Regions from separate parts of the Homo sapiens genome. Here region 2 is linked to region 1. A link means that fine-mapping ties the variant in region 1 to the expression of a gene that starts in the linked region. Tissue or cell type: nasal epithelium. Region 1 holds a variant in brackets; the other region holds the start of a gene. All regions are shown on one strand. Distances are between the middles of the regions.

Evidence for each region. PIP is the estimated chance that this variant, and not a neighbour inherited with it, causes the effect.
Region 2: ACSBG1 starts here. The variant in region 1 is fine-mapped to the expression of ACSBG1 in nasal epithelium (TOPMed, PIP 0.98).

Annotation. Positions count from the first base shown.
Region 1 is chr15:78,206,751-78,211,895 of GRCh38, forward strand. It overlaps ACSBG1 (acyl-CoA synthetase bubblegum family member 1), which reads right to left. Exons shown (of 14, transcript NM_015162.5): 2 at 1,252-1,352. Among named protein-coding and RNA genes, the nearest start is that of ACSBG1, 25 kb to the right of the region's middle. RefSeq lists an enhancer at 1,191-1,702. The variant G/A (reference allele first, on the strand shown) is at 2,879.
Region 2 is chr15:78,231,960-78,237,104 of GRCh38, forward strand. ACSBG1 (acyl-CoA synthetase bubblegum family member 1) reads right to left here and starts at 2,606. Exons shown (of 14, transcript NM_015162.5): 1 at 2,412-2,606. The coding sequence starts at 2,542.

The DNA.
Region 1 (5,145 bases):
CACGGCTGCCAGACGACAGCCATTCAGATGAAGCCATTGAGGCCCGCAGGGCTGGGGATTATGTGTTTCTCCCTCGGGATGCCAGATGCTTTTCTGGGGCTCCAAGGGACACGGAGCCTCCCCCACAAATGGCTCCCTTCCTGCCCCTTGAATTGCAGGAATGCCTGTGCCATCACTCATACTCAGGACTTGCTGAGCTCCACGGTTTTGCTGTGGCCCAGGCCCCTGGTGCCAACACCTGCTCTTTGAGCACCCCAGAGAAGGGATTATAAAGTCTGGGGTGTCTGAGCCTAAGCCAGTTGGTGGGACCTGCCCTAGGTGGCTCAGCAAGTCAGCAAGATGCCTTGGAATCCTGGGAGGATGAACGTGGGAGGCTCCCGGGACCAAGCTGTCCCTGTTCCTGGCCTCTCTCCGGTGTCTTTCAAACCATTCTCAGAAACCAGTTGGTCCTCTTCTTGGCCCAGTCCCTTCTCCTTTATCTCTGAGGTGAGGGCAGGGGGCATGAGAGGAAACACCCACCCCCACAGCTCAGGCCAGATCCCTGCCAAAGCCACCCAAGACACTCGGCCTGGGAGAGCGGCAGCTGGTCTGGCAGCAGTGACCCTCTGTGCTGGGTATCTATTGTTTTCTTTTTGTTTTTAAATTTCTGTTGTTGCTACAATGTTGTTGTGCAGCCAATAAAAGTGCACAAAAGATGTATTATTATTATTATTATCATTTTGATGACTCTTCAGAGTCAGAGTAAATAACTCTGCCTTCCTTAAGGCACAATTATTTGATGGTGGAGATCAAGAAGATAACATGTAATGTTTCAAGCCTCCAAAACAAACCTTTCTAGCCTGCACCCGTCTGCCTGCCCCTTGCCCCAGTTAACCAGGCCAAAAATCCCAAGGCATTGCTTATCTGGGCTTTCTCCTGTCCCTCAGCAACCCTTTGCTGGAGCCCCAAGTTCCCAAGGCCTGGGCCCAGATGATGTCCTACCTGTCTCTCTATCTCTGGCCTCTCTTCTTCCCAGCTTTCTTGAAGAAGAAATCTCCCCATCCCTCATTCCTTTCCATCACGCCTGGCCCTGATGGCAGCCATGAAGGAAGGGGCTTGGTGGGGTCCCTGGGAGCGTGGAACCAGCAAGATCCCCAGCTGCTCCTTCCCGCAGTTCTGTGTGGTGGTCCCCCACACCACCCACCCCTCCAGCACACCCAGCACAGCACAGTTTCCCGCCCTGCCCCACCCTACCACCCCCAGCTGGCTTACCTGGAGCATCCCACTGGGCATTATTCACCTTCTCTGGCACTGAGAGCTCGAGAGCATGGTTCAGGGACTCTTTGGAGAGTGGCTGCCTGTCAGTCAGTGAGCTGGGGTGGTGAGGGGACCAGGAAAAACATTCATTAGAACGTGGGGGACCGGCCTGGGCTTAGGGACTCCGGCCTGGCACACATCTCAGCACCCCCAGGGGGACACTGGCACCTCTGTCTCCTGCAAATGCTGGGGCCATCCACAGAGGAGAACCCAGTGGGAGTCAGGGGACAAGACCTCAGTGGTTGTAGGGGCTGACCCTGCCCCCACCCAGCCTCCCTCCAGGCTCTAAGGGCTCAGGAGAAAGGGAATTCAAGGCCTTCTGTGCTCTACTTTGTGGTGTGACCCTGGGCAAGTTCATGCCTCTCTCGGGGTCTCAGCACCCCACCTGGATGAGGACGGGGCTAAGGTCCGCACTGGAGGATTCTGAATGCCACTCCTGGAGAGGGCAGACTTTTGGGGCGGGGGTTCCCCCATCTGTCACTCCCTGTACCCACCAGTCCCCAGCCATGCCCAGAAACTGAGTGGAGCTGCAGGTACTCATAGGGCTCTCAGGGGTCCTATTCCGGCCCCCCAGTGAGGGCCTCCCCTCTTCCATGTGCTTGTGGGTGCACCATGCACCCCATGTCTGTTCACTCCATGGAGAAGACAGACATAGACGGGTCCAGGGAGACCTGAGGCCCAGGGCCTGACCCAGATCCCCCTCGCCTCCCAGGCTCGGTGACCCTGGCTAAAGGGTCTCCCCTTCTGGCCAACCCAAGTTTCATGGGTTTCTGGGCTTTCATTATCCTTTCAGCCTGACTGCCCTTCAGCACCATTTTTCCTCAGAGTTCACCTGGCCAGACCTCAACCTCCTAGATGGCTGAGCAGCTGGATTTCAGTACACACTTTAGGACTGCAACAGGATTATAGAACTCCAGAGACACATTTCACAGTCAACAACTACGTAAACAGAATCCACTGGAGTTGTGCAGCATGCAACCTGTGCAGCTGGTCATGGTGTCCCTGAGGGTAGGACCCTGGCTCCAGGGAGCCCTGTCTGTCAGTTAGGGTGGGGCTAGCCCCATCCCTGCCCAGTTCCCAGGAAGCCGGGCCAATTACCTGCTTCTCACATTCAGCCTCACTCCTTGTCGGCACTGCAGGTTCCGAACAAAACTAAGTTTGTGAACACACCTAGGCCCACCTGGCAGCCATCTGCTTAAGAACCTGAGATAGGTTTTAAAGCGAAAGATATCAGAAGGTTATGAAGGGAGGGGGACGGGGAGAAGGGGGATGACTGGGGAACCAAGGTGGCGCCGTTCTTGCGAAATTTGTGAGCAAGGCCTGGGCCACAGGCCTGGAGCAGCCCTTCCATTGCTATGGCGACCCACTCCAGGGAGGTTGTGGAAAAACTGAAGAGATGGCAACGTGTGCTTCCGGGGCGAGGCCTCCTGTGCCGGGCAGACAGAGGCGTGTGAATGCTGCAGAACTCGTCCTACTGACTTTGGATCCTTGGTTACAGCTCTCTGGGATAGCCAGGTAGAAGCTGCCTCCACTTTGGGCCGCAATGTTACCAAATGGCCCCTGAGCTCTGGGTTCAGGCAGC[G/A]ACGGCAAACGAGGGACACGTACACTGCTAGGCTCAGAGGCCTGCACTGTGATCATCTGGGGAAGACTGTGAACTTGGTTGATGTCCCTGCCCCATCTCAGCCTGTGTTCTCAGAGGACGGTGGACAGCACCCCAGGTTAGAGTTAGCAGCTCTAATCAGCCTCTGAGATCACCAGCTGGGCGGCCACCTCCACATTAGCCAGGCAGGAGGCTGTCCTTGGCTGTAATGTCCCACCATCTGAACTGCTTCCTCACAAACAAACCTGTTTTTAAATCCTCCTAATCAAAAGGTATGGGCAGCACTTCTCTCCCCACAGAAAATTAGTGTAAACTGGTTCTGGTTTTAAAATAGCTACACAAAGACTAAATGAAAAGACAGCCACCAAAGGAAGCCAAGGGTCAAGCGTACTTATCGTGATTAGAACCTTCTGTTTATAGGGACGATGAGGCTGTTGGCAGCACCTTCTTGCTGCGGGTGGGTGCCTTTTCCTGGAGGGGCAGCACCCAGTGCAGTGTCAAATTTCTTGTTGCTCAGACACTGATCTTGTCCAGCAACCATGGTCAATGAGAGGGTGGACCGTGGCCCTCTGCCAGCATCAGTTTAACAAGAACACCTTCCTTATCCCTGTGGCTGGCTCAAGGCACTGATTCAACTCTCTATGCCCTATGCTTACAGAATTTGGGGCGCATGATTAAAAGAATGTCAAAACCTAATTCTCCAAATGAATTAAGCCTGATCTTTTCCTCACTAGGGGCTTTGAGAGGTGGTCCCTTTGAAGAGATGTCATCCGAAATAGAATGTGCTAAACCTCCAGTAACTTCCTGCTCACACAGAGTTATAACCAGTAACAGGCTTTCCTGACCTGACTTGTCACACAGAAACAAGTGAAACTGCTCGGGCCATCTGCCTCTCCTCATTGTGAGTGCTGTCTCACACTCGTTGTTGTTCGTAATGGTCGTCTTTCAGTTTTTATTTTGTATGTATGTATTTATTTATATTTTGCAGACAGGGCCTTGCTCTGTTACCCAGGCTGGAGTGCAGGGGCACAATCACCACTCACTGCAACCTCAAACTCCTAGGCTCAAGCAATCCTCTCATCTCAGCTTCCTGAGTAGCTGGGACTACAGGACAGCACCACAAAACCTGGCTAATTTTTGTATTTTTTGTAGAGACAGGGTCTTGCTATGTTGCCAGGCCTGGTCTCCAACTCCTGGGCTCAAGCGATCCTCTAGCCTTGGCCTCCTAAAGTACTGGGATTATAGGCGCAAGTCACCATGCTCGGCCATTTTTTAGTTTTTAATCCTCTCCTCTGTGACTAGCAGTCACTTCTTGCTACTTTCAGTGTGCTGGCTTCTAGCAATTCATCTCACTCCTACATTGCCATTTCTTTTTGTAGCAGAATAGAAAACAAAACAGCCAAGCTCGTTAGAACTTAGGTTACATTGGGGGACAAGTTCCACAATGGAACCTATCATGTTTTCTTTGAAGAAAAGAAGCTAAGGTTTGGGAAGCTGCCCCTACTCTGTCTTAACTCCTCAAAAGCATTTTGGGCCCTTCTCCTGATTCTTGCTGCTATTCCAGGAAGGACAGGTGGCTGTAAATGATCCTACAGGTGAGTTGATATTACTGTCATTGTGATCATCATGAGCACGCCGAAGGCGATTAACATATTATTCCTGTCATTCTGGAAAATTATGCTCCTTCTGGAAGGCAATACTCCAGAGGTTGGCGGAAGTCACCTAACATGATTAATGACAATAATGGTGGAAGAACGGCCTGAGGAGGCTGACTGGCTTCTGTCTGCATTTTGAATTCCCAGGAGGAAGAAGAGCTTACAAGGTTGGCCCTTTTCACTCGTCTTTGAGGACGAGAACAAGGATTCATTCTCTGACCTCAGCTCACATAAGCACACTTTAAGCTCATCGCCTTGCTCTCCTTTCACAGAAAACAAAAACACTTTATCAGCAGCTACCCAGCAGCATGGGAACAAGAAAACAAAGGGCGTGTTTGAGCAAATATGATGTAAGATGTGTGGGGGGCAGAGGAGCCTGGGAGCGTCTGCACTGCGCCTTTCTCTTAACCATCTCTTGGTGGATTGGTGTCTCCTTACTCCTTCTACCTTGCCAGAGGAGCTGATGGGAACCATTTGCACACAGAGCCTCCCAAGCCTCCTTCAACTCCTCCTGCAGGAAGCCCTCCTAGATTTCCCCAACACCCTCTCACCCCTGTGGCCCTTGGATACTCAGGTTTGGGCTTTGATGGTCAC
Region 2 (5,145 bases), 25 kb after region 1:
AGCAGGTTTAGCTTCCCTGTTTGACAGATGGGGAAACTGAGGCTCAGAGAAGGTATCTTGCCAAGGGTCACAGAATGGGTTAGGAGCAGAGCTGGACTGGAACCCAAGGCATGTGACCTCCAGCCTGCTGCTAAGAGTGTTGCTATGAGAGTTACTATGCCTGTGATGGGTAACTCTTATGCTTTGAAAACATTTTCATACACATTAGCTGATGGAATCCACCCAATTTTTCTGCAATGTCAATGAAGTTCAGGCGTTGTATATTTATTTGTACAGAGGATGCTATTGAGGCTCAGAAAGGTTAAACAATGTATCCAAAGTCACTCAGCAAGAAAGTAGTAGAACTGACACTCCAACTCTTGGGTTTTTAGCCTTTCTCTTTCCCTACGGGGTCCCAAGACCCATTTACCCTTTCAGGAGGGAGTCCTTCTCTGCACAAGCCTAGGGTTCTGCCTCAAGTTTGCCTACTTTCCTTCAGTGATGTCTGCAAAACAAGCCCAGTCCTCTGTGAGCTTTGCAGGGCACACAGGACCCTCTGCCACCCCTTTTCACCACAGGCCTGAGACACAGGCTCCTGTGGCCCTGAGCCCCACTTGGCCCCTCACTCACAGGGAGCAGAAGACCCTGAGATCCTGCAGACCTTGATTTTGTTTTCAAAGACTCCCCTGGCCCTGGCTGTCCTCATGCCTGTCTACCCCTGCTCTGGGCACATTTATTTCTTTTTCTTCTTTTTTTTTTTTTTGAGAAGGACTTTTGCTCTCGTGGCCCAGGCTGGAGTGCAGTGGCACGATCTTGACTCACTGCAATTTCCACCTCCCGGGTTCAAGCAATTCTCCTGCCTCAGCCTCCTGAGTAGCTGGGATTACAGGCACGTACCACCACCTGGCTGTTTGTATTTTTAGTAGAGACAGAGTTTCATCACATTGGGCAGGCTGGTCTCAGAACTCCTGACCTTGGGTGATCCACCCGACTCAGCCTCCCAAAGTGCTGGGATTACAGGCATGAGCCATCATGCATGGCCTCTGGACATATTTCGATGTGCTCCTCTGAGCATCTCGCCTGGCCTTCCTGCTCTCTGAGCCCACAGACCCCAGGGAGGAGGGGAGGTGCCAGGACACCGGGGCCCAGAGGAGATCCTGAATCTGCCCTTGGGTGAGGAAGTCAGTCCAGCTTTCTTCCAGGGGCCCTTGACCCTCTGTGCACCTGACCTATGCCCAGGGAGGGGCTTGCCCTCATGCTCTTGGAGGCTTTGCAGGGAAGAGTCCCTGCTTCTGGAAGAACAGGAGTCCACTTTGGATTAGCAGGGTTCTCTGGAGACCCAGGGCAGGGCCCAGATGCCAGCCCTCGGAGGGGCCTCTGCATCTCTGAGGCGCATTAACATCTGTTCCCATTTCCCTCTATCTTCCTTCCCCATAACCTTCCATCAGGACAGGGGCTGTAGTCTTGGTAGCTCAGACACTGGCAATTCCTCCCCATTACTACAGAGGACTTGGACCCTGGTATTTAGCCCCTGTCCTCCCCAGTTCTATGCTTCCGCCACCCAGACCTCTCCCATCCCCAAACTTCCTGTCTTGCTTTGTTAGGTCGTTCTCTCTGCCCACTGCTCTTGGCTCCACTCTGACCGTCAAGGTCCATCTCAGGCGCCCCAGTTAGAAACCTCCTTCTCTCTGCCCCTTCGCCTGCGCCCCTCCTGGACACAAATCACAGATGTTGGGGTCCTGGAGTTCCGTGTGTGTGCGTGTGCGCGTGCGCCTGCCTTCTTCCTGCCTTCTGGCCAGGGCATCCCAGGGCTGGGACTGAGTCTCATCTTCTCAGGATCCCCTACTCCCTGGATGGACAGGGCCTGGGCCAGGGTGGGCATTGGTGAATGCCTGATACGTTGAATCCACTTCCTCTAAATCACAGATTACTGGAATATATACAGTGGAAGGGCTTTAGGGAAACCTCAGCCACTGCACTCATATTCAGACAGGGAAGCTACAGCCCACGGAGGGCAAAGGCACTTGCCAAGGTCACGCAGCAAACTGGAGCGGGAACCTCTGGGTCCCCACCAAAACTTATCTGTCTTTGACCCCCGCAGGCAAAAGTCCCCCTTGAGGAGACAGGGAAACATTCTTGACTGAAAAATTCCTCCTCCATCCAACTGAGATCCAACTGGTCTCCAACTGCAGCCCCAGCTCATACCCCTGGGATGTGCCTCATTCTTTGATGAGCCTTTCTTAGCCATGCTAAGTAGCCCTCCAAATGACCAGTTCTTCCATCTTACGGATCGCCCAGATCCTTCCCTTCATTTCCCAGGTGAAGAAACTGAGGCTCAGAGAGAGAAGCAGCTTGCCCAAGTTCACACAGCAGAGCAAAGTCTAGAACTCGGCCCACAGGTGCAGTGTGCAGAAACCCAACCAATGACTTACCTGGTTTTCAATTTTTCTTGGGTGGTCCTCACAATCATGTCCTGCCGGCTCTCCTGTGGGGTCTCTCTGCTGTCCAGCATGCTGGGGTCCCCGTGTGGGCAGCCGTATCCAGCTCCAGAATTGCGTGGCATCTGCCTCGGGCTTCCACTGAAGACAGCTCAGTCACCCACTGAGAGAGGCTAGCCTTGAGTGAGCAGTGGGGGTGGGCATGGGGCAGGGGAGGCGGCAACTAGAGTGACCCAAAGAGGCTCATTTCCTCTCTATTTTTAGAAGCTCAAAAAAAATTGCTCCTCAGTGAAGTTTCTCAGAATTAAAACTTTCCTTTTCTTTGTGGTTTTGTTTCTCTCAAGATGAGGAGAATTTCAATGAAGCCAGTGTTCTTTTTGATGCAAATCCGCTCCGCTTCTCCCAGGAGGTCTGGCCAATGGGCTCAGGGCTTCTGGGCCCCCAGAAAACCTCCTCACTGGCTTTAAAAGGTCATAGTGGTTCTCAGCACAAATCCAGACCCAGATCCTGAAGTGGCTGCTACCCCTGGCTGCATACACTCTGCAACCTTGACTTGCGGTCTGCCGAATGCTGCCCTGGGAGGGATCTCACCCACTCAGTCCCCCTCCCCCAGGTCCTGCATGGAGGCTGGAGACCCAAGGAGGGAGCCCACCCCGGGGGAAGGAAGGAGACATTTCCAACACTGAGACCACGCCACATGGTCTATAGAAGCAGTTGCACTGAAGACATGATAGAGGCAACCGAGGAATGTGACTTTCCAGGGACACATGAATAGAAGCCTGGATCTGTCCCTTCTTCTAAAGGAAAGAAGCATGTTAAGGGGGGCGGGGGGGTTTCAGGCAGCCATAAAGAGATGGGAAATTCACACAGGACAAGGCCTTTTTCTGAATACCAAAAGTCTCCCCTCTAAGACCATGTATTCATTCCCCAGGGCTGCTGTAACAAAGTTCCACAAACTGGATAGCTTCAAACAACAGAAATGTATTCTCCCACGGCTCTGGAGGCCAGAAGTTGGAAATGAAGATGTGCGCAGGGCCACACTCCCTCTGGGGGCTGTGGGCAGACTCTTTCTTTGCTTCTCTCCCAGCTGCTGGGGGTCACTGGCCATCCTGGGTGTTCCTTGGCTTGCATGTGCATCTCTCCAGCCTCTGCCTCTGTCCTCACGTGGCTGTCTTTCCTCTGTGTCTATGCCTTAGTACATTTTCTGTTGCTATCACTGAATACCTCAGACTGGGTAATTCATAACGAAAATAGGTCGGGTGCGGAGGCTCATGCCTTTAATCCCAGCACTTTGGGAAGCCAAGGTGGGAGGATTGCTTGAGCGTAGGAGTTCAAGACCATCCTGGGCAACATAGTAAGACTTTGTCTCTTCAAAAAATAAAACAGAATTAGCTGGGTGCCACGCCGTGGTGTGCACCTGTGGTCCCAGCCACTTGGGAGGCTGAGGTGGGATGATCACTCAAGCCTGGGAGGTTGAGACTGTAGTGAGCCATGATTGCACCACTGCACTCCAGCCTGGGCAACCAGAGTGAGACCCTGCCTCAAAAATAAAACAAACAAACAAATTTAAAAAAACACCAAAACACACACACACACACACACACACACACACACACACAAAGAAATTGATTTCTTAAAGCTCTAGAGGCTGGAAGTCCAATATTAAGGTGCCAGCATCTGGTGAGGGCTTTCTTGCTACATCATAACGTGGAGGGCATCACATGGTGAGAGGGCAAGAGCGTGGTGCCAGCTCAGGTCTTTCTTCTCTTATAAAGTTTCCAGTTTCAACATGGGACCCCGCCCTGATGACCTTGCCTAACCCTAATTACCTCCCAAGGGCTCAACTTCCAATCAACATATGAATTTTGAGGTTAAGTTTCCAACATATGAAATTTGTTGGGAATTTTCCCACCATAGCAGTCTATGTTCCTATTTTCTCTTCTTACATGGACACCAGTCATTGGAGTAGGGCCTTCCCTGATGCCAAAGAACCTCATCTTAACTATATCTGCAGAGACCCTATTTTCAAACAAGATCACATTCTGAGGCTCTGGGTAGACATGAATTTGCTGGGGGACGCAATTAAAATCCATATACATTGTGTACAGGAGGTGTTAGTGGGGATACCTATGAGATGTCCCCAAGAAGAAATAGGTCCAGTTGGGCCACAGGTGATGCTGTCTGGTGAAGGCAGGTGACTGAGAAAAAGCTGGGCTGCCTTCTAACAAACTCAGGGCACAGGCCACAGGCCCCCAAATGCTGCCTTCCTAATGCTGTTGAAGGTACACTGAGCAGGTCGTCTGGGGTCTAGCTGCAAGGCCTGAATCTCCCACTGACACGCCCTCAACCACGATCTTGGGCAGATCTCGGCCCTCTCCTGGCCTCAGTTTTAACTGCTTGAATCATGAGGGTGATGGCCTGAGGTGGGCCAAAGTGGCCACCAGCTCCAACTGGACGTGAGAAGGTGATGGGGAGTCCTTTGCCCATGGGCTGATTGGAGGGATCGAATGAGTCACCACTGTAAGTGACAAGTCAGTGTCTCCCCACCCGAGGAGAATCATAATCAGAGAAAAAGACATAGAATGCTCAGCTCTGAAGTTCAAAAGCCTTGGTCAATATGAAAGCCTGGGAAGGTTCGGAAAAATGTGTAAGTTGTTCATTCCCAACTCCCCTTCCTTCCCCATCCCTCAGATTCTTATAGATCCAGGGAACCAGGAAGGGGAAGAGA